Regions from separate parts of the Homo sapiens genome. Here region 1 is linked to region 2. Evidence: fine-mapped expression QTL. A gene starts in region 2. The other region holds a variant in brackets. All regions are shown on one strand. Distances are from middle to middle.

Region 1 (5,378 bases), 530 kb before region 2:
GCACCACCATGCCCAGCTAATTTTTTGAATTGTTTGTAGAGTTGGGGGTCTCGCTATGTTTCCCAGGGTGGTCTTGAACTCCCGAGCTCAGGCTATCCTGTAGCCTCAGCCTCCCTAAAGTGCTGGGATTACAGGCGTGAGCCACCATGCCCAGCCCTCTAGAAAGATTGTTCTTTGTACCATAACGATCATTTGGAAAGGAATATAGTTATATATAATAGCAATGAATATAATATTCTTGCAAATCATTTCATTTATAAAAGGCTAAAATGTAGTAAGTGTTTTTAGCCTTCCCCAAATATTTCAAACCAGAGGTACCAGTAGATTGTTTTGATAGCATTTAGTAGACTGTTTTGATAGCATTTTCCCCCCCGATGTCTGATCATAAAAAGGAGTATTTATGATTTGTGAACACAATGAATGGTAGGCTTTTTGGAAGAGTCAAAAATCCTAACTGATCATGGAAAGAAAACCCAAAGGATGGCAGAAAAGGGAAAGCAAAGACTTTTTTTAAAAGTTAAAAAAACAAACAAACAATGTTTTTAAGAGTTCGGCTTGGCCGGGCGCGGTGGCTAATGCCTGTAATCCCAGCACTTTGGGAGGCCGAGGCGGGTGGATCACGAGGTCAGGGGATCGAGACCATCCTGGCTAACACGGTGAAACTCCGTCTCTACTAAAAATACAAAAAAATTAGCCAAGCGTAGTGACAGGCGCTTGTAGTCCCAGCTACTAGGGAGGCTGAGGCAGGAGAATGGCATGAACCCAGGAGGCGGAGCTTGCAGTGAGCTGAGATTGCACCACTGCACTCCAGCCTGGGTGACAGAGCGAGACTCCGTCTCGAAAAAAAACAAAACAGTTTGGCTCTATTAATACATTTCATTTCATCTATTACAGTTTAACAAACGTTTCTAGAGTCTACAAAACACTGCTGTATCAGAGAGAGAAGGCATGGCATGATCTCTACCGAGCCGTGAATGACGACTTTCCCCTGGGTTCGTTCTAGACGTGCTTCTCTTCTCGACACGCTCCTCCTGGGTGACCTCACCCACTTCCCTGTCTCTGCTGACCGTCCTTCCAGGGAGGATTCCCAAGCCCTTTGTTTTCAGCTAAGACACCCTGTGCACCCTCTCATGCCTATTGGATATCTCTGTTCTGACGCCACCCTGACATTTCAAATGCCTCCTCTCTCTCTAGTCTGGGTGATGTATCCCCAGGGAAATCGCTGGGGACGTGGTCGGTGACGGTGGGTGGGAGCCAGATTGCAGCAGGTGATGAAGTGAGGAGGAGAAAAGGAAATGGTGGATGTTTCTTTGGCCATTTGCCCTTTTACTGTGCATGAATGAAGGTACATTTTGATCTCTACCCTACTGTCAAGGCAGGCACACTCTCCATCATTTACCAATTTCTATGACTTTGACATTCCACATCTTCAAGCTATTTCCTTTTCCCCTTCCCAAGTGAGCATTTTTAATATAGAAGGGTGGGTGGGGTAGCTTTATGCAGCCTCTGTCTTCTGGAATAAGAGTTATTAGAAACCTCAACCACAAAAAGAAGGCTAGGGCACTGAATTCTTCCTCAGGGCAACTGTGCAGACAATTCTAATGTTTGCACAGTGTAAGACACGTGATAAAGACTGCATTAAACGTAAAAGTTTTACAAATATGTACATCTGAAAGTATGAGCGAAAATGCTCAAGCTCTTCAAATAGAGGAAATACAAATTGTTTTGCTAACATAGTATGGAAACAAATAATTTATTTCACTACTTTAGAAAAAAAATCAAGTTTTAGAATCAACTGTTTCAGCACCATATTTAACTCTGAAACAATGTTTTTGTCAATGTAGTTAACTTTTTCCTCATTTTCACAATGGGATTAACATGACTTTTTGATAATATGCCCTTAAAGGAAAGGAGAGACATGAACTCACAAACATTTACAAGGCAGTGTGGCATAGTGGTTAGAAATGTGCGCTCTGGGGCTGCTGATCCCAGGCTCAAACCCTGGCGCTGTCACTTCCTAACTGTAGGACCCTGGATGAAGTTACTAAACCTGTCAGTTAAGCAACTTCATCCACTCAAAGTAAGTAACGACAGCACCAATCTCATCTGGTGACTGTTAAGGATTACATGACATAATTCATGTACAATTTAAAACGGTCTGGCATATAGTTTGTACTCAACCAGTGCCAGTTGTGACTTCCTCTAAGCCTACCCCCTAGGGAGATGTTTGAAGGAATGATGGCTACGTGTTCATATTAGATACAGGATAAAAGCATCCTAGCAGAGTCCTAGAAAGATGAGTTCTCGGTCAAACAAATTCTATTATTCTCTTTTCATAGGAAGCTATACCAATAAAGGGACTAAACACTTTTTGGTGAGGAGGGCAGTGAACTGTGGTTCATGCCCTGGGTTTCTGGAAAGTGTGTTAAGTCCTATAGGTGCAACAGCGGAACGGAAGATAGG[T/C]AAGTGAATGTCCTGCTTTGCAGGAACCGTTACAGATACAGGAAGTCAAATACGTGTGGCTTTCCTCTCTGTGTGCCCTTGTTTTATGATTTAGGCCTCAGCAGCAACCACGCCATTAGCTGTAACTGTCCTTGTTGGCAGTGTTTACTGTCAGAGCAGGACCAAGCACTTGTTGACTGAACCTGAAGAAATCAAAATGAATGAAGGAAAAAAATCCTGCTAGTGGTAGTCCCAAGGAACTTTGGAAGAAAGTAAAAACAGACCCACCAACATGGGGCATCATGTGACTCAGGGGCTGGCCTGTCGTACGATGCTGAAGAGCATGTGTGACTCTGTACACACCCTGGCATTTCCTCTGAGGAGAAAATCTCAACAAAATTTAGCCTCTGAGCTTCTCATGGGCTAAAACTGAAATACCTGCTGAGTCTTCAGTACCTGGAAGAAACATTCACTCATGGCAGCATGGAAGTCGACAGTCACTGTTTCTGCCTCTTCTGGCCAAAGCCAGTGCCTTAGAGGGGGTTTAGGCGAAGGTTGAATTCTCAAAATGTACATTCACTGATGTACAGTAAAAGGGCAAATGGCCAAAGAAGCCTCCACCATTTTCTTCTCTCCTCCTTACCTGCTGCAATCTGGCTTTGGTCCCCACTCGCCCTCACCGACCAGGTCCCCAGCGATTTCCCTGTGGATATGTCCCTGGACAACTCTCCATTCTTACCCTACCTGGCCTCACGAAAGCATCTGACGCTGGGAAGTTCATTTCCTCTGGTTCATGGAAAATTACTAGAGTGAAAGTTTCATGAGGATGGGGACTGTATCAGCCTAGTTCCACGAAGCAGTTCTTACAATGCTTGGCAGAGTGTGTACTCATCACAGACAATCAATATCTGAGTGAGTGACCCAGTGTCTCCTGGCTCCTGTAAAAGGTGATGTTCTGCTGGGCTTGTTCTAGACATGCTTCTCTTCTCCACACACTCCTCCTGGGGGACCTCACCCACTTTCCTGTCTCTGCCAACCATCCTTTCAGGGAGGATTCCCACACTCTTTTTTCAGCTGAGAGCCACTGTGCAGCCTCTCATGCCTACTGGATATCTCTGTTCTGACGCCGCACTGACTGTTGGGGGAAGTCAGGGACCCCAAACGGAGGGACCGGCTAAAGCCATGACAGAAGAACGTGGATTGTGAAGATTTTATGGACATTTATTAGTTCCCTAAATTAATACTTTTGTAATTTCTTATGCCTGTCTTTACTGCAATCTCTCAACATAAATTGTAAAGATTTCATGGACACTTATCACTTCCCCAATCAATACCCTTGTGCTTTCCTATGCCTGTCTTTACTTTAATCTCTTAATCCTGTCAGCTGAGGAAGATGTATGTTGCCTCAGGACCATGGGATAATTGCGTTAACTGCACAAATTGTACAGCATGTGTGTTTGAACAAATACGAAATCTGGGCACCCTGAAAAAAGAACAGGATAACAGCAATTGTTCAGGGAATAAGAGAGATAACCTTAAACTCTGACCACCAGTGAGCCGGGCGGAACAGAGCCATATTTCTCTTCTTTCAAAAGCAAATGGGAGAAATATCGCTGAATTCTTTTTCTCAGCATGGAACATCCCTGAGAAAGAGAATACGCGCCTGGAGATACAGGCTTATAAACAGCCCCCCCAGGTGTGCCTGTCTCTTATGGTCGAAACTGCGGAGATGAAATAGACTTCAGTCTCCCATAGCGCTCCCAGGCTTATTAGGAAGAGGAAATTCCCACCTAATAAATTTTGGTCAGACCGGTTGATCTCAAAACCCTGTCTCCTGATAAGATGTTATCAATGACAGTGGTGCCCGAAACTTCATTAGCAATTTTAATTTCGCCTCAGTCCTGTGGTCTCGACCTGCCTCCACTTGCCTTGTGATATTCTATTAACCAGTTAAGTACTTGATGTCTGTTACTCACACCTATTCACACACTCCCTCCCCTTTTGAAAATCCCTAATAAAAACTTGCTGTTTTTTGTGGCTTGTGGGGCCATCACAGATCCTACCAACGTGTGATGTCTCCCCTGGACGCCCAGCTTTAAAATTTCTCTCTTTTGTACTCTGTCCCTTTATTTCTCAAGCCGGCTGATGCTTAGGAAAAACAGAAAAGAACCTATGTGAATATCGGGGCAGGTTCCCCGATAACTGACATTTCAAACTCCTCCTCCTGCTCTTGTTTGCTATTTCAGGGAGTGGAATGAACACCTACCTACCCAACTGCCTAAACCAGAAACTTGGGGGTCATCCTTAACCCCCTTCCCTCTACGCACACTCCCTGGCACCTCTGGCACTCAATCCCTCAGTTCTGTAGATTTGTCTTCCCAAATCTCTCTGTAATTCATCCACTTCTACCACATCCCAGCTCCGGCCAGCATCTTCTCCGGGCTACTTCATCAGCCTCTCTGACAGGACTGGCTTCCTTCCCTCTGTGGCTTCCTCTCTCCCTGCAGCAAATGCACCAAATACTCCCCACTCTGACTCTCATGCCCTTGCACCTGCCGCTCTTCCTCTGACTAACTCCTATTGATCCTTCAGGTTTCTGGACATCACCTCCTCCAGGAAGCCCTTCCTTGACCCTGCCCAGCCTGAGCCAGGCGCCCTTGCTATGTGCTCTAGAGCTCCCTGAGTGTCCTGTCCAAGTGTTCACCCCATGATAACATAATTTTCTATTTGAGGTCTGCATCCCCTGCTAGATCTTTCTGTGTGTCTTGTTATTTTAGCCCCTGAAGCTAGGATAGTAGCCACAAAAATATTCACAAACACCTCTGAATGAACAAACAAAAGTAGATTTGCAAATCTATAAAATTCAACTCAAAACTGCTATCAGTCTAAAAGAACAACTTTCAAACAACAATTTTGAGCTCTGTTTTCAAATGGAA
Region 2 (5,378 bases):
CATAAAATGTTACTAGAACTAAGAAATGAGTTTAGAAAGATTACAGAATACAAGATCAATATACAAAATCTACATACTAGCAATCAGAAATTGAAATTGATAAAACAATACCACAGCATCAAAAATATGAAATGCTTTAGGATGAATCTATCAAAAGATGTGCAAAACCTATACAGTGAAAACTACAAAACACTACTAGTAGGTGTTAAGGAAGACCTAAATAAATAGATAGGCATATCTTTATTCATGGGTCAAAAGATTCAATATTGTTATGATATTAATTTCCCCCAAACTTATGGATAGAATCAATGCAATCCCAATCAAAACTTAAGTAAGATCATGTGTAGAAATTGACAGACTGAATCTAAAATTTATGTTGAAATACAAAAGACCTAAAATAGCCCAAACAACCTTAAAAAAGAACAGAGGTACAGTACCAATGCTAGCTGGTTGCAAGTCCAGTCATCAGGATATTGTAATATTGATGTAAAAATAGACAAATTAATTAATGGGACAAAATAGGAAGTCCAGAAATAGACACAACACATTGATAGGAAACTGATTTTTGACAGATTCAAAAACAGTTCAGTGGAGAAAGAGTAGTCTTTTAAAAATTGGTGCTAGGAGCCAGGCCTGGTGGCTCACGCCTGTAATCCCAGCACTTTGGGAGGCCGAGGCAGGCAGATTACCTGAGATCAGGAGTTCAAGACCAGACTGGCCAACATGGTGAAACCCCGTCTCTACTAAAAATACAAAAATTAGCCAGACGTGGTGGCACACGCCTGTAATCCCAGCTACTCAGGAGGCTGAGGCAGAAGAATTGCTTGAGCCTGGAAGATGGAAGTTGCAGTGAGCCAAGATCGTGCCACTGCACTCCAGCCTGGCCGACAGAGACTCTGTCTCAATCAATCAATCAATCAATCAATAAAAATGGTGCTGGAACAACTGGATATAGATATGCAAAAAACAAAACAGATAAACAAAACAAAACAAAAATTTTGGCCATATATAAAAATTCTAAATCGGTCAGAGACCTAAATGTAAAACCTAGAACTATAAAAATTTTAGAACAAAACATAGGAGAGAATCTTTGTGATCTTGGATTAGGCAAAGATTTCTTAAATATGATACCAAAAAAAGAACAATCCATTAACAAATTGATAAATTGGGCTTCATCAAAATTAAAAACTGCTCTTCCCAAGACAATATTAGGAGACAGAAAAGACAAACAAGAGACTGGGAAAAAAAATCTTTGTAAAGCATATGTTTGATAAAAGATTTGCATCCAAAATATATAAAGTGTTCTAAGCTCAATAATGAAACAACTCAACATTAAATGGGCAAAAGATCTGAACGGACACTTCACCAAGGAAAATACACTCGCTGCAAATACGCACATGAAAAGATGCTTAACATCATTAACGATTAGAGAATGCATAATAAAGCCACAATGAGCTACCACTACACAGAACCGGAACATCTACAGTTAAAATCTCTGGACTTTCAAGTGTTGGCAAGGATGAAGAACAACTGGAACTCGCATAGACTGCTAGTGGGAAGGTAAAGAAAAAAACCACTTGGGAAAACAGTATAGTAGTTTCTTAAATGGTTACACCTACCTTACGACCTGGGCATTCCACTTCCAGGTATTTACCCCAGAGAGGAAAAACCGTATATGTCTGTACAAAGATTTGCACAGGGATGTTCCTAGCAGCTGTAGTTCTAATCAGGAAAAATTGAAAGCAGGCTAAATCAAGTGCTGACTAAACACACGGTGGTATATCCATAAATGGAATACTGCTCAGGAAGCAATGAATGATTGTTCCATGCAAAAACACGCAGGCATGTCAAAGTAACTATGTTGAGTGAAAGAAGCCAGACAAAATCAAGTACATATGGGATGATTCCATTTATGGACGACTCTAGAAAATGCAAACTAAAACAGATCAGTGTTTGGGCTGCGGATGAGTGGAGTTGGGATAGGTGGAGGGGGGCAGGGCGAGGGAGGAGCAGGAGTGGGAGGAGCTGGGAGATGCAGAGATGGGTTGGGGAGGGTCTCATGGAAGGGAAGGGAGAGAGGAAGGGGGAGAGGAAGGGGGAGGAAAGGCAAGGGGAAAAGGAGAGGAAGAGGGAGGGGGAGAGAGAGGCAGAGTGGGAGGAAAGAGGGGCGGGGACCTGGGAGGGCCCAGGGCACATAGTGGGAGGAGCAGGTGGGAAGGAGGGAAGGAGGGAGGGGCAGGGGAGGGAGAAGAGGGGGAGGGAGACGAGGGGACTGGCGGTGTGGGCGGAGCGTGGGGAGGGAGGCCGACTAGCGCAGGCGGACGGGAGAGAATGGGGGAGGGGTGGGATGGGAGCAGGGGCAGAGACGGGCAGAGGGCAGAGGGCGGAGCGGCGCCGGAGCGGGCGTCATGGCGCGGCTCCTCTGGTTGCTCCGGGGCCTGACCCTCGGAACTGCGCCTCGGCGGGCGGTGCGGGGCCAAGCGGGCGGCGGCGGGCCCGGCACCGGGCCGGGACTGGGGGAGGCAGGTAGGACGCGGGTCCCGCAGGCCCCGCCGCCGCCTACGGCTTTCGGCTTCATTTCACCGGCTGCACCCGGGAGCCTAGGGCCGGTCCAGGCCGGGCGCTGCCCTCCTACTAAGCCCTCCTCGGCGCGCCCCTCCCCCCCCCCAGCCCGAGGATCTGGGACAGTGGATTGTAAACTTGGTGGCGGCAGGGTGGGGACTGACCCCTGTGAGAATCCGAGGAAATGAACAAATGATCCCCCTAAATGTGCGCATAATTTTTTTTTTCTTGGCTCGGGGAGTGGGGGCATAAGTGGGGCTCGGGGGCCTCTGACCCCTATCGGGGACTCCAGGCGAAGGCCCGGGGCCTGGGCTGTAGCAGCCCGGCCCGCGCGCCCCTGCGAAGGCCCCTAGTATTTTGCATTGCAGCCCTCTTCGTAGTTCCGCGGGCTTCCTTCCAGCATCTGAGAAGCAGGCAGTTCAGACTTGGGGTTCCTGTGAGTGTTTCCTGCCCTGCTGACTTCCCATAAATGTGTCTAAGAGCCAGGGAGACTGGGTTGATCATTTGTTCCTTCTTTAAGGTGACAGCCATTGTTAATGACTGAGACAGAGACCAGGGCGAGCCTGTGTGTGTGTGTCTCTCTCTCTCTCTGTGTGTGTGTGTGTGTGTGTTTCTGCTAAATACTTTTGGATCCTCTCTTGGATCTGGGTACCTGCACATTTCACCAAGCAGGAAGGAGTCACCTCGGGAGACCTGTGCCAGCTACCCCTGTATTTCAGTTCTATTTCAGGGTAACTTAGTGCCCCAGGGGATTGGCTTCCTGGGCGGTTGCCAGACTGACCCACTCTGAATCCAATTTTATATGTGTTCATTGAAGACATTCAGAGATACCCAACTGATGAAAATGTACCAACTCATTCTGAGCTCTTTTTAGCCCCTGAAGTTTTCGAAATGCAATATTGAAAGAATACGTAACTAAATAAAAGCGTTGGCGTTGTGGAATGTTAGCTCATCCAACTTGACTTCCAGCTATGGCCTTTCTAATCACTGGTGTCTCTAGTCAGTCTGATGACATTTGCTGTGAGCCTACTGTGTGCCAAGCATTGTATTGCTGAGAACCACAGGTGATAGAAACAGGTCACAGTTACCGACGAGCTCTCTATAACCCCTTGAAAAAGGATGGTGGTTTTAGCGGTAACTACTTCATGGCTGTAATTGCTGCTGTCAGAAGCAGCCTAATGAATTGCCCTGGGATCTGAAGTTCTCCAGCAACAATAAAATTTGGCCAGCCACCAGTAGGTAACAGGAGCTGTGTACCTTATCAGACACCCCTCCTGGGAATCTATTCGAAGGAAATAGTTCAAAAGAAGAACAAAGAGATATATGCAAAGATGCTTTAAGCACTAGTCTCTTACAAAATGGAAACTGGCTGTAACCCAAATCAGTTAAGAAATACTTACGTAAATCATGAAAATTCAATCCAACAAACTGTTAGGCAGCCATTAAAAATGATAAACGGAGTATTTCTGTGGTGAAGGGCTTGGGTATGAATAGATGCAGATTTTGAGTCTTGGCTCTCGGTTACTTCCTGGCTCTGTGTCTGAGCTCAGGCTGCTATTGCAAAACACCGTGGACTGGGTGGCTTCAACAACATTTTCTCACAGTTCTGGAGGCTGGGAAGTCCAAGATCAAGGTGGGAACAGATTTGGTTCCTGATGCAGACCTGCTTCCTGGCTTGCAGTTGACTGCCTTCTCACTCTGCCTTCAGGTGACTGTCTCAGGAAGGACCACTAATCCCTCAAGAGAGCCTCACCTTTATGATCTAATCTAAAACTAATAACCTCCCAAGCCCCACCTCCACATTCCATCTCATTGGGAGTTAGGGCTTTAGCATATGGGAGTGGGGAGAGGAGCAGGGAGAACATATAATATTCAGTTTGTAACAATGTCTTTGGACATGTTTCTTGAATTTGGAAAGTTTAAACTTCAGATTTTTTTTCCTTCTGTCAAATAAGGATAATGATAATGGTAGGGTTGTTGTAAAGAATAACTTTTTAATTAAATATTTTGTTACAATGCTTGACACTTAGGCACACAATAAATGTTAGTTATGATTACATAAATAAGTGGAAAGGACAAAAATGTAGCTACATTTAACTTACATCATGGGCTTCGGGAGTGTTGAGAGAGAGGGAGACATTGGGAGGGGGGAAATGAGAAGATATTGAAATGACAGTATTTTTTTCCAGTGCTGCAATTTCTCATATGCTTAGAGTGATTTTTTTTAATCCAGATTGACAAAGAGCAAACTGAAAAAGGAAAGTAAGAAATATTCTGGAGCAAAAAATCTGTTGCTTCAGGAAAATATTCTTTCTAGAGATGACTATGCTAGGAAACTGTCCTGGGCATAGGGTTAAAATAGTCCAGGCACTGGTGGGAGAGACTAGTTCTGCAGATCAGAATGGGCTGGGGATTCTTTTAATACCAGTTTCTAAAGAGTTCCATTAGATTCAACACATTATTTATCAAAATGGAGTGGGCTTATGTGTGACAATTGGCAGTATAGCAACTGTGGCCAGGAAGGTTAGCAAAACCCGAAGGAGGCACCCAGTAGGTGACCATAGGACCAAGAGTGGATTTCCTTAGGGATGAAAAAATCGAGGCCCACCCCGTAGAACTTCTGACCAACAAAATATATGGCCTGTGCAAATCACAGCACACAGAGAGAAGGGAACTCCAAGGAATTTGAGTTTATTAAGGCATAATTCAAAGTAAAGCTGTGTAGTTATCTCATGCAATAGCAGCAACCGATAAATGTTTTCATAGTGAAGATAGCAAGAGAATGTAGAGGGAATCTGGAAAATGTGTAGCCCCCA

What was found. PIP is the estimated chance that this variant, and not a neighbour inherited with it, causes the effect. A credible set is the group of variants that fine-mapping cannot tell apart.
Region 1: its variant is the best candidate, but not a certain one, in a credible set for the expression of MSRB2 in whole blood (TOPMed, PIP 0.65).

Annotation. Positions count from the first base shown.
Region 1 is chr10:22,561,710-22,567,087 of GRCh38, forward strand. The region is part of intron 6 of PIP4K2A (phosphatidylinositol-5-phosphate 4-kinase type 2 alpha); the gene reads right to left. It also overlaps the pseudogene TRP-GGG1-1. Among named protein-coding and RNA genes, the nearest start is that of LINC03027, 130 kb to the left of the region's middle. The variant T/C (reference allele first, on the strand shown) is at 2,464.
Region 2 is chr10:23,093,201-23,098,578 of GRCh38, forward strand. MSRB2 (methionine sulfoxide reductase B2) reads left to right here and starts at 2,379. Exons shown (of 5, transcript NM_012228.4): 1 at 2,379-2,526. The coding sequence starts at 2,409. LOC107984215 (a long non-coding RNA gene) reads right to left here and starts at 2,079. Exons shown (of 3, transcript XR_001747394.2): 1 at 1,620-2,079. RefSeq lists a silencer at 2,187-2,656.